Homo sapiens: one gene and its partner. The protein of the gene in region 2 interacts with the protein of the main gene of each other region in a pairwise test. Each region holds a gene or a part of one and is shown on either strand. Other genes may lie near its edges.

Region 1 (4,502 bases), about 31 Mb from region 2:
CCATGAAGCGTTCAGCCTCCGTGCTGGGCCCCAAGGCCCGACGCCTGGACGATTACTCGCTGGAGCGGGTCCCGCCCGAGGAGAACCAGCGGCACCACCAGCGGCGCCGCGACCGCAGCCACCGCGCCTCTGAGCGCTCCCTGGGCCGCTACACCGATGTGGACACAGGTGGGCAGCCCTGTGGTGCTCAGGGACAAGCAGAACAGAGGAGAGGAGAGGGGAGGAGAAGGCAGGGCGGAGGAGACACTAAGGAAGAAGAAAGGGAGAGGCCTCCATGGAGAGGGGACAGAGGGGGCCAGGCAGCAGCTGCAGGAACCTGGGTACTACCCCCTCCCCCCAACCCACTGACCTGCCTCGGTTCAGGGGATCTCTAGGGCCCCCACACCTTCCAGGTGGCCTCCTGTGTGTGCATCTGCCCCACCTCTCCCTCACGACCACCTGTGTGTCTGTCTGACCCTCACCCGGCCCAGGCTTGGGGACAGACCTGAGCATGACCACCCAATCCGGGGACCTGCCGTCGAAGGAGCGGGACCAGGAGCGGGGCCGGCCCAAGGATCGGAAGCATCGACAGCACCACCACCACCACCACCACCACCACCATCCCCCGCCCCCCGACAAGGACCGCTATGCCCAGGAACGGCCGGACCACGGCCGGGCACGGGCTCGGGACCAGCGCTGGTCCCGCTCGCCCAGCGAGGGCCGAGAGCACATGGCGCACCGGCAGGTGGGTGCGGCTGCAAGTGACCCCAGGCTGGGCTCGGCCGGGAGGCGGGGAGGAGAGAAGGGGATACCCCATCCAACAGCCACTCTAGGCAAAGGTCCCCGGATCCCGGCTGTGACCACCTCCCATCCTGCCCCCAAGCCACCGGGGTGCCCGGCGGCCGGAGCGGACACGGATCCCCACCACACCAGCTGCCTATGCTGTCCCCCCAGCCCCCTTGCCCACCCGCCGCCCCCTCCCCGCCGCCCGCAGCTGCTTGCTCCTCGGTTGTGGATCATATTTGAGTTCTGGGCCGTGCCGCCCGACCTTTCACTTTCCTTTAACCCGGCTTCTGTTTTTGTTTCAATTATGATTTCTGTCCTCTGGACGCCTGTGAGTAATTTTTGAAACTTCTGCTATTTTTAACCCCGAAACTTACAAAACTCCATTTCTCATTTCTCTTTTCACTTTGTTGTGTTGGTTTTCGACTCCTCCCCTCCCTGTCTCACTCCCCCTCCTCCCCTCCCTCCTCCCTGTGGCTGTTGCTTTTTTCCATTCAATGTCCTGTGTCCCCCCTCTCCTCCTCCTCCTCCTCCTCCCCCTCCCCCTCCTCCCTCTCCTCCCGGCCCCTCTCCCTTCGCTCCCCTCTCTTCCTCCCAATCCCGTGTCTCCTTTGATTTTGTTGTATCTTTTTTTTTGATTTCCTTTGTTTCAATTTTCGTGTAGGGCAGTAGTTCCGTAAGTGGAAGCCCAGCCCCCTCAACATCTGGTACCAGCACTCCGCGGCGGGGCCGCCGCCAGCTCCCCCAGACCCCCTCCACCCCCCGGCCACACGTGTCCTATTCCCCTGTGATCCGTAAGGCCGGCGGCTCGGGGCCCCCGCAGCAGCAGCAGCAGCAGCAGCAGCAGCAGCAGCAGCAGGCGGTGGCCAGGCCGGGCCGGGCGGCCACCAGCGGCCCTCGGAGGTACCCAGGCCCCACGGCCGAGCCTCTGGCCGGAGATCGGCCGCCCACGGGGGGCCACAGCAGCGGCCGCTCGCCCAGGATGGAGAGGCGGGTCCCAGGCCCGGCCCGGAGCGAGTCCCCCAGGGCCTGTCGACACGGCGGGGCCCGGTGGCCGGCATCTGGCCCGCACGTGTCCGAGGGGCCCCCGGGTCCCCGGCACCATGGCTACTACCGGGGCTCCGACTACGACGAGGCCGATGGCCCGGGCAGCGGGGGCGGCGAGGAGGCCATGGCCGGGGCCTACGACGCGCCACCCCCCGTACGACACGCGTCCTCGGGCGCCACCGGGCGCTCGCCCAGGACTCCCCGGGCCTCGGGCCCGGCCTGCGCCTCGCCTTCTCGGCACGGCCGGCGACTCCCCAACGGCTACTACCCGGCGCACGGACTGGCCAGGCCCCGCGGGCCGGGCTCCAGGAAGGGCCTGCACGAACCCTACAGCGAGAGTGACGATGATTGGTGCTAAGCCCGGGCGAGGTGGCGCCCGCCCGGCCCCCCACGCACCCCACGCACACACCCCACCCGAGGAGCCGCGCAGAGGCCGCGGGGGCCCAGCACAGAGGGCCCGGGAGAGGGCCAGCCGGGAGACCCCAGACTCTGGAGAGGCCAGGGCTGGGCCACAAGGGTGTCCCGCAGAGACCCTCGGCCAAAAGAGACCCTCCTGGGCAGCCACGGCGCCCCCCAACCAGCCCCGATCCCCCCACCCACGACAGGGGCTCTCGGGTGGGAGGCAGGGAGCAGACAAACCACACAGCCAAGGGATTTGAATTAACTCAGCCATTTTTGGAGAACTTTGGGGAACATGAAAAAAAAAAAAAAAAAAAAAAAAAAAAACATTTTTAAAAGAAAAAACGGGGAGAAAAAAATAGCTTCTATTGATGAGTTTTATCATCTCAATTGAATCTTTCCTTTCCCTGATGAAGACAGCTGGTGGCCGAGTGCGGCAAAGAAGCCAGAAGGAACCAGAATCCCAGTGCCCTACACCCACCACCAGACACACTCACACCCACACACGTTCTCAGACACACACAAGAGTGCTTGCCGGTTATACCAAACCCTACTATTACTGCCTGCAGAAATCAATTTAAAAAAATAATAATAACAATAAACAATTTTAAAAAGGACAAAAAAATTAATGATTGAGAAAAGAGGCATTTTTTTCTGACATTTGGTCCTGCTTGAAACAACAAAAGAAGAAGAAAAACCCACCATCACCACCGATTCCTTTGCTTCTTTTTTCCTTTTTTCCTACCTTGTTTGAAAACCGTGGGCTTGGGACTGTGAATTATTGCATGACATTCAAAAAGAAAAAAAAAATAAAAAAAAGTTGAATCAAAGGGCTTTTGGATAGGAGTGGTCTTTGTCCCTTGGCTAGGTGCTGCCTGGGTGGGTCTCTCTTGGGGAATCATACAAAGAGGCACTTCTTTGTTAGCTCCTAGAAGCACTGTTTGAAAGCGACAAGGAGGCCGGGCATCATGCACGCCTGTAATCCCAGCACTTTGGGAGGCTAAGGCAGATGGATCACTTGAGGTCAGGAGTTCGAGACCAGCCCGACCAACATGGCAAAACCTCATCTCTACTAAAAATACAAAAAAAATTAGCCATGCGTGGTTGCACAAACTGTAATCCCAGCTACTCCGGAGGCTGAGGCATGAGAATCACCTGAGCCTGAGAGGCGGAGGTTAGCAGTGAGCCAAGATCCCACCACTGCACTCCAGCCTGAGTGACGGAATGAGACTCTTGTCTCAAAATAAAAAAAAAAAAGGCAGGGCGCGGTGGCTCACGCCTATAATCCCAGCACTTTGGGAGGCCGAGGTGGGTGGATCACATGAGGTCAGGAGTTCACAACCAGCCTGGCCAACATAGTGAAACGCCGTCTTTACTACAAATACAAAAATTAGCCACGCGTGGTGGTGGGTGCCTGTAATCCCAGCTACTCGGGAAGCTGAGGCAGGAGAATTGCTTGAACCCAGGAGGCGGAGGTTGCAGTGAACCAAGATCGTGCCACTGCACTCCAACCTGGGTGACAGAGCAAGACTCCATCTTAGATAATTAATAATAATAATTTGGTCTCGTGGACACCAACCCCCGCCCCCACGAAGTGTTTCAGCCATCCCCAGAGTCCAATACCCCTTTGAGAGCTTCTGTTCTCACAACAGTACCTGACCCATAGCAAGCTACTATTGACTATCACCATTACTACTGTAGCATTAAGGCAAACATTTTGAACAGGTCTTGTTCCAGACAACAGGCCCTGCTTGAGCTTACCTTGGGTAAGAAATCTGCAGACTCCAGATAGCAAGACAGGTGTAAGTCCTTCTAAAATAATGGTAAGCCAAATGTGGTGGCACACACCTGTAGTCCCAGCTGTTCAGGAGGCTGAGGCAGGAGGATCACTTGAGCCCACGAGGTCAAGACCAGCTATGATCACACCTGTGAATAACCATTGCATTCCAGCCTGGGTGACGTAGAAAGATCCCATCTCTAAAAAAATTAAAAGTAAAAATAAATAAATAAAATAATGGCATCTAGGAAAAGATCAGTCCAACGAGAAGTCAAAGTTTTGAGGTCGAGTGCGGTGTCTGACTCTTGTAATCTCAACACTTTGGGAGAATCACTTGAGGCCAGTAGTTCAAGACCAGCCTGGGCAACATAGCAAGACGCTGTCTCTAAAAAAAAAAGTTTGTTTTTTTTAAGGCTGGGTACAGAGGCTCACGCCTGTAATCCCAGCACTTTGGGAGGCCAAGGTGAGCAGATCACCAAGTCAGGAGTTTGAGACCAGCCTGGCCAACATAGTGAAA
Region 2 (7,860 bases):
AGAATTTGTTGTATATTTCAAAATAACTAGAAGATTTAGAATGTTCCCAACACAAAGAAATGATAAATGTTTGAGGTGATGCATATCCCAATTACCATGATTTGATCATTACACATTGTATGTGCACAAATCAAAATATCACGTGCATCCCATAAATATATACAACTATTAATATATTAATAAAAACTACTTCACGTGTTTTAGAAAAAAATTAATTTTACTCTGGAAAAATGTATATACTTTAAAAGATTCTCCAGAAGGTTGATGCATGGTTCAAATGGCAAACCATAACCCACAGTACCTCTATGAGTTATTTGTTTAGGTATGATATATTTAGGAAAATGAAAAGTCTCTACATGATTAAGAGCAAAAAGAGGTTCCGAAAATAACTGCTTTAGAAGTGCACAGAAAAGGGAGTGTGTGATATGAGAATGTTAACTGAGCATCTATTCTTTAAGTAAATTTCCTCAGTAGGTTGGAATGAACAAATGTGGGAATCAACTCAACCAGAAGGGCAGAGGTGAGGGAATCACAGAAGAATTGACCCAGAGCCCTGTTTCAACGAGACCTGGTCCTGTCCTACCTGTATTCTTTTTGTTTTTTGTTTTGTCTTGTTTGAGATGGAGTCTCATACCGGCCCCCTGGGCTGGAGGGCAATGGCGCCATCTTGGCTCATGGCAACCTCCGCCTCCCGGGTTCAAGCGATTCTCCTGCTTCAGACTCTTGAGTAGCTGGGATTACAGGCACCACTACCACACCCGACTAATTTTTGTATTTTTAGTAGAGGCTGGGTTTCACCACATTGGCCAGGCTGGTCTCAAACTCCTGACCTGTGATCTGCCCGCCTCGGCCTCCCAAAGTGCTGGGATTACAGGCATAAGCTACCATGCCCAGCCTCTTCTTTTTAAATATGCATACCAATAAATTTTGTTCCAGCTAGTTGGAGTGTGATTTTCCATTTCTCACAATTGAAAACATCTTGATTTAAACAACCATGTGCTCCAGCAGCCCACCCTAGTAATCTGGTGGTGATGAAGCAAAGCATTATTGGCCCTGTATTTCTTTTTTTGTTTTTATCTTTTTTATTTATTTTTTCTTTTTCATTTATTGGCCCTGTATTTCTGATGGTAGCATGAAATGAGGTATCATGGAACTTAAGTATTCATTGTCCTGGAAGGTAAGGTCCAGGACAAAAAAAAAAAAACAACAGTGGGAAACTTTCTCCCACCTCCACTAAATATACACCTGAGTAAACCCTTCATCCAATTACTATGATTTGATCATTACACACTGCATAACGTGTAATGATGTCTGAGAAGTATGGGGTGTTGTCCAAAATGCTGTGTCCTTAACAGCTTAGTTTAACATCTAAAATGCATGCCATATGATATTCCCCTTTTTTGCAAAACCTTTCTCATGAAGCTTTATGGAACTAAAAACCAGTTGGGATTTTTTTCTTCATTCAGTCTGTTTCTATCACACTAGCTCCCAAAAAGAAAGATAGCAAAAGCCCCCGCCAAAGAAACATAGCACAGCTGTACACTGTATGGAAAAAGTCTTAAATAATCAGATAGAAACTTTGGCCTATTATACTGCTTGGAAAATGAAGCTGAACTGAGGACAGAAGCCAATTGCAAAAACATTACTCAGATTGTAGACTGCTTGGTTTTATGTGTTTTAATTAAATGTCATTTCCTTGAATTCATTTTAAGGCTTCTTGCAAGAATCCTTTTCCCAGTACAATTATAATGACGAATTGGGGCTGAGCTCACTAAAATATTCAAATATATGTCCTATATATGATAGATTTTTCCTATCAAGTTAAACAATTCCAGGGAAGCCACTATTTCTTAGGTACTTGTTCAAGGTCACGATCATGCAGCAGTAAACAATGTTCCTGCATGGAGCTTAGATTCTAGTGGACACAGATTTTGTCATGTCCCTCATTATACTTTTGCTAAATTCTGACCTTACTTATCATTTTGAAGGCTTCACTCCTGCATATTGCTTATTGGATGTGAAGGTTCTGATTGAAACATATTGTATCATTCTTTATAGGGTTTCTCTGTTGTGTGTTCTCTTGACAACTGTGACATTTTGGGCTCTGCTTGAAACTGGTCATATTCATACAAAAATAGGTTTTCTTCAATGGAATTCAGATAACTATAAAAACTCAGCTCATGAATTCTTAAAACATGACATTTTATAAATATTCTGTGCTGTGTGGATTTTCTGAGGAAAATGGGAAGTCTAAGTCTTGAAGAGCACCCCTATCACACTCATCATGATTAATAGATTCATCACCATCATGGACTCTCTGATGAATCTGAAGACAACGAACTCTTACTAAAGCCCTTACCACACACAAAACATTTGTATGGTTTCTCTCCAGTATGGACTCTCTGATGGGCTTGAAGATGTGAAGTCTGACTGAAGCTCTTACCACACATGCCACATTTATAGGGTTTCTCTCCCGTGTGGATCCTCTGATGAACATGAAGATATGAGTTCCAGATGAAGCCTTTCCTACATTCTTCACATTTGTATGGTTTCTCTCCTGTGTGGACTCTCTGATGGGCTTGAAGATGTGAACTCCAACTGAAGCCTTTCCCACACACATCACATTTGTAGGGATTCTCTCCAGTATGGACTTGCTGATGGTCTTGGAGATGCGAACTCTGACTAAAGCCCTTCCCACATGTCTCACATTTGTATGGCTTCTCTCCTTTGTGAACTCTCTGATGGGCCTGAAGATGAGAGATCTGACTGAAGTCCTTCCCACATGTGTCACATTTGTAGGGTTTCTCTCCTGTATGGACTCTCTGATGGGCCTGAAGGTGGGAATTACGGCTGAAGTTCTTATCACACACATCACATTTGTAGGGTTTCTCTCCAGTGTGGATTCTCTGATGGGCTTGAAGATTTGAGGCCTTACTGAAGCCCTTATCACATACCTCACATTTATATGGTTTCTCTCCAGTGTGAACTCTCTGGTGAAGACCAGAATTCCTATTAAATATCCTGTCACTTACTTCCCATTTGTATGTCTTGTCTCTAGAGTGACCTCTCTGATGGGCTTGAAGTTGTGATGTCTGACTGAAGCCTTTATCATATACATCACATTTACAGGCTCTCTCTCCAGCACTGTCTACACAGTGAATGTCAAAATCTAAGCTATGATGGAAGCCCTTCCCACACCTGCCACATGTACACAACTTCTCTCCTGGGTGAGTAAGCTCATGAGAGGGAAGACAGGAGTTCTGGTTGGAGCTCCGGGCATATACCTGACATCTGTAGAGGTTCTCTCCTGTGCTGACTCTCTGATGAGGTTGCAGATGTGAGCCCTGACTGAAGCCCTCACCACTGTCACCATTCCTATAGCATTTCTCTCCTATGTGGAAACACTGATGCCTGGGAAGCCCTGAGCTGTAACCTATGCCCTTCCCGTACTCAACATTTACATGAGGCTTGTCTCTTAAGTGTAGTTGCTGGTGAAGTTCAAGATTAGAGCCAACACTTAAGCCTTTTCCATTTTCATCAGAGGTTTGCTCTCCTGATTGGATTATGCTATGCTGGGATGATTCCTTCACACAGTCTTTTCCACAATTATTGTGGCTAAAAGCTTTCTCTCTTTTGTGTACTCCATGATCATCATGTTGATGAGCAATTCTTTGCCTAACACAATGATCACATTTACAGAGCTTATTTTTTACATCAATTTGCTGACACCTACTCTGATAATTCTGTGGTTCTCTCAGATACATTTTCCTCCAGAAATCCCAGGTGGTCCTCAATGGAAGCTCTTGATTTTTTATGCTATTTGAACTCTCCCCTTGTAGCTTTATTACATAGTTCTCATCTTCAGAGACCTGACTAGATTCTCCTGTCCACACCTGACAGGGGGAATCACCTTGTTTTAGCAACTTGGACCTCTTGCCTTGAAGATTTATTATTAGGTCTTGATTACTGGTTAATTTACTTGTAAATTGTTCCCATATTTGCCAGCATATAAGGTCTTCATATGAAAGGAATCTTAATCTTACTTCTTGAAGGGTATCTATCTCATTTTGATTCTTGTGTCCTAGAATGATAAAGAGAACTCAGAAATGAAAATGAAGACAACTGAACATTTGTTCAGAAATAAAAAAACATTTCACAGGTTGACCACATTGGGAAACCTTAATAAACCAGTGGAGAGTTCAGCTTGACTTTATCATTGTTTTTTTTTCTCTTTTTTTGTTTTTTGAGACGGAGTCTCGCTCTGTCACCCAGGCTGGAGTGCAGTGGTGTGCTCTTGGCTCACTGCAAGCTCCACCTCCCGGGTTCATTCCATTCTCCTGCCTCGGCCTCCCGAGTAGCTGGGACTACAGGCGCCTGCCACCATGCCCAGCTCATTTTTTTGTATTTTTAGTACAGACGGGGTTTCACCATGTTAGCCAGGATGGTCTCGATCTCCTGACCTCGTGAACCGCCCGCCTCGGCCTCCCAAAGTGCTGGGATTACAGGTGTGAGCCACCGCACCCAGACTATCATTGGTTTTTTTCATGCCTATGGCAACAAAAAAGGCTGGCTTCTATATACAAAATGTTAATGAGACTCATTTAGAGCTATACCAAGACTTTTTTTTTTTTTTTTTTTTGAGACTGCAGGTTGTACAATGTAACCATGATTCTGAGGCTCACATATAGCCAGGATTTTGTAGATTTTATACATCTGCCATGGAAAAGAGGAGAGGATTTTTTTTTTTTTTTTGAGATGGAGTCTCACTCTCTTGCCCAGGCTGGAGTGTGGTGGCACGATCTTGGCTTACTGAAACCTCCACCTCTGGGGTTCAAGTGATTCTCCTGCCTCAGCCTCTGGAGGAGCTGGGACTACAAGTGCATGCCACCACACCTCATTAATTTTTTTTGTATTTTTAGTAGAGACAGGGTTTCACCATGTTGGCCAGGCTGGTCTTGAACTCCTGACCTCAAGTCATCTGCCTGCCTTGGCCTCCCAAAGTGCTGGGATTACAGGTGTGAGCCACCATGCCTGGCCAATACCAAGACTTATGTATGTGGTCAAATACACAGGCTACAGAGCAACAAAAAGATGCCCTAGAAAGACGTTGTAGAGGAGAAACTTTACCTCCTTGTCCATAAGAATAATCACTTAAAAATCCCTCCTCTTTGGCTGGGTGCGGTGGCTCTCACCTGTAATCCTAGCACTTTGGAAGGCCGAGGCAGGTGGATCACGAGGTCAGGAGATCGAGACCATCCTGGCTAACATGGTGAAACCCCGTCTCTACTAAAAATACAGAAAAATTAGCCAGGCATGGGGGCAGGCGCCTGTAGTCCCGGCTACTCGGGAGGCCAAGGCAGGAGAATGGTGTGAACCCAGGAGGCAGAGCTTGCAGTGAGCGGAGATCGTGCCACTGCACTCAAGCCTGGGCTACAGAGTGAGACTCCGTCTCAAAAAAAAAAAAAAATCCTCTCCTCTTTTCCGTGGCAGATGTATAAAATCTACAAAATCCTGGCTATATGTGAGCCTCAGAATCATGGTTACATTGTACAACCTGCATCTGTATATGATAAAGCCCAAAAATGGTTACAAAAGCCTGAATCTCTCCTTCAGCATTCACAAGTGGATTATTTAGTGATGCCAAGAATTCTCAAAGAAAGAAAGAGGGGACATCCTTGGCAAAAGTGAAGAGAATATAGAAAAATATCTTCTCTGTCTTGAGAATGAACCCATAAGATAGTACCATTATTTCCTTAATTTAGTCCTTAAACATACATTTGATGAGCTAGATTTGAGAGAATTCTCCTTCTTTTCAATGAGGTTCTAAGTATATAATATTCAATTAGTGAACATGATAAATGAAAAAGAATTAGAAAACTTATTCCCATAGCTGACACACCCTATAGGAGTAAAGGCATTGATAATTGTTGCCACTTGGTTTGACTGAATTTTCTGATAAACCTAAATGGCTAATACAAGATGGTCCCCAGTGATCACTCCCCATTGGAATCCATTCCCTTTTGAAGCCCCCTCCCACACTGTATCAAGTTTGGTCTGTGAAACCAATAGAATATGGCAGAAGTGATGATCTGTCACTTCTGATGCTAGGTCATAAAAACACTGTGGCTTCTATCTTCCACTCTCCTGAATCACTGGGTCTGGGAGAAACTAGCTGCCATGTTTTGAGGACACTTCAGCAGCCGTAGGGAATGGTTCACTTAGCAAGGAAGCGAGGCCTCCTGCCACAGCCATGTGAACGAGCCCACCTTGGAAGCAGGTCCTTCAGTCCCAGTCCAGCCTTCCGGGGACGGCAGCTCCGTCACTCTTTAACAGCTTTTTGAGATCCGGAGTGAGAACCCTCACTTAGGGTTAAGCTAAGCTGCTCCCATATACCTAACCCATAGAAACTATAAACCAATGTTCATTGTTTTAAGGTGCTAAGGTTTTTGTTTTGTTTTGAGACGAAGTTCCGCTCTTGTTCCCCAGGCTGGAGTGCAATGGTATGATATCAGCTCATTGCAACCTCTGCCTCCGGGGTTCAAGTGATTCTCCTGCCTCAGCCTCCCCAGTAGTTGGGATTACAGTTGCCTGCCACCACACCTGGCTAATTTTTTTTTTTTTTTTTTTTTTTTTAGTATAGATGGGGTTTCACCATGTTGGCCAGGCTGGTCTCAAACTCCTGACCTCAGGTGATCTGCCTGCCTCAGCCTCCCAAAGTGCTGGGATTACAGGCGTGAGCCACCACAACTGGCCAAGGTGCTAAGTTTCACAGTAATTTGTTATAAAATAATTGATAACTAACACAGGTGTCATAAAAATTATAAGTAGGCTGAACATAACATCAGAAGAGTAACTATGTTCTGAAATAGTCCTTTAGTGACACCTCTTTATTCTCTGCCTGTGAACTCTCTCAATGAGAAGTGAAGACAGTGAGATCCACTTAGCACCATACTCTGTGAGATTTTGTTTCATTGATCCTTGAGGGAGAAGATGCCCTTTAATTTGTACTTCTGTCCAGTGAAAATAGACCTCAGGAATATTTTGTATAGGTGGAGCTGGGTACGTAGGTGGATAAGCAGAATGTGAAACCCTAAAAAATTCTGATGTTTGCCAAAAAATAAAGAGAGGTGAGGGTAGAATACGCTGTCAGATTTGTTCAGTTTTCCAAGGGCTGTGAGTTACATAGTTATATCCTTTTGTCAAAACTCATCAAATTGCACACTTAAGGTGTGCACATGTAAATTTTACCTCAATAAAAAAGAGCTGTAAAACAAGCCATTTTACTTCCTGAAAATTTAGGGAGCTATACATTTACAATTTGTACAGTTTTCTGTATATATTTCAATAAAAAATTGGCCAAAAATTAAAAAAAAAGTAAAGATTTGTGGCCGGGAGCAGTGGCTCATGCCTGTAATCCCAGCACTTTGGGAGGCCAACGTGGGCAGATCACAAGGTCAAGAGATAGAGACCATCCTGGCCAACATGGTGAAACCCCATCTCTACTAAAAATACAAAAATTAGCTGGGTGTGGTGGCATGCGCCTATAGTCCCTGCTACTCGGGAGGCTGAGGCAGGAGAATCGCTTGAACCTGAGAGGCAGAGGTTGCAGCCAGCCAAGATTGCGCCACTGCACTCTAGCCTGGCAACAGAGCGAGACTCCATCTCAAAAAAAGAAAAAAAAAACAAAAACAGTCAAGATTTGCTAAGGAGGCAAAGAAGAAGTTGGGAAGAAGCTACCTGTTAAGAAAAAAAAAAAGGACAATGGCAATAACTGGGATCATAATTCCCAAGTTTTAGGTTTATACACAAAAATGAGGCAGTCAAAAACAAAAAAAGAAAATTTTTAAAAATGAGGCAGTC

What was found. Proteins that work in one complex are often made in the same cells at the same time.
Region 1: the proteins of ZNF233 (region 2) and CACNA1A interact in a two-hybrid assay, tested with the Homo sapiens proteins (one study listed by BioGRID and IntAct).

Annotation. Positions count from the first base shown.
Region 1 is NC_000019.10:13,204,978-13,209,479, reverse strand, and holds the end of CACNA1A (voltage-dependent P/Q-type calcium channel subunit alpha-1A), read left to right. Parts: coding exon 1-168; intron 169-470; coding exon 471-724; intron 725-1,426; coding exon 1,427-2,167; 3' UTR 2,168-3,038; downstream 3,039-4,502.
Region 2 is NC_000019.10:44,269,120-44,276,979, reverse strand, and holds the end of ZNF233 (zinc finger protein 233), read right to left. Parts: intron 4,082-7,860; coding exon 2,307-4,081; 3' UTR 1,663-2,306; downstream 1-1,662. UniProt on the Homo sapiens protein: May be involved in transcriptional regulation.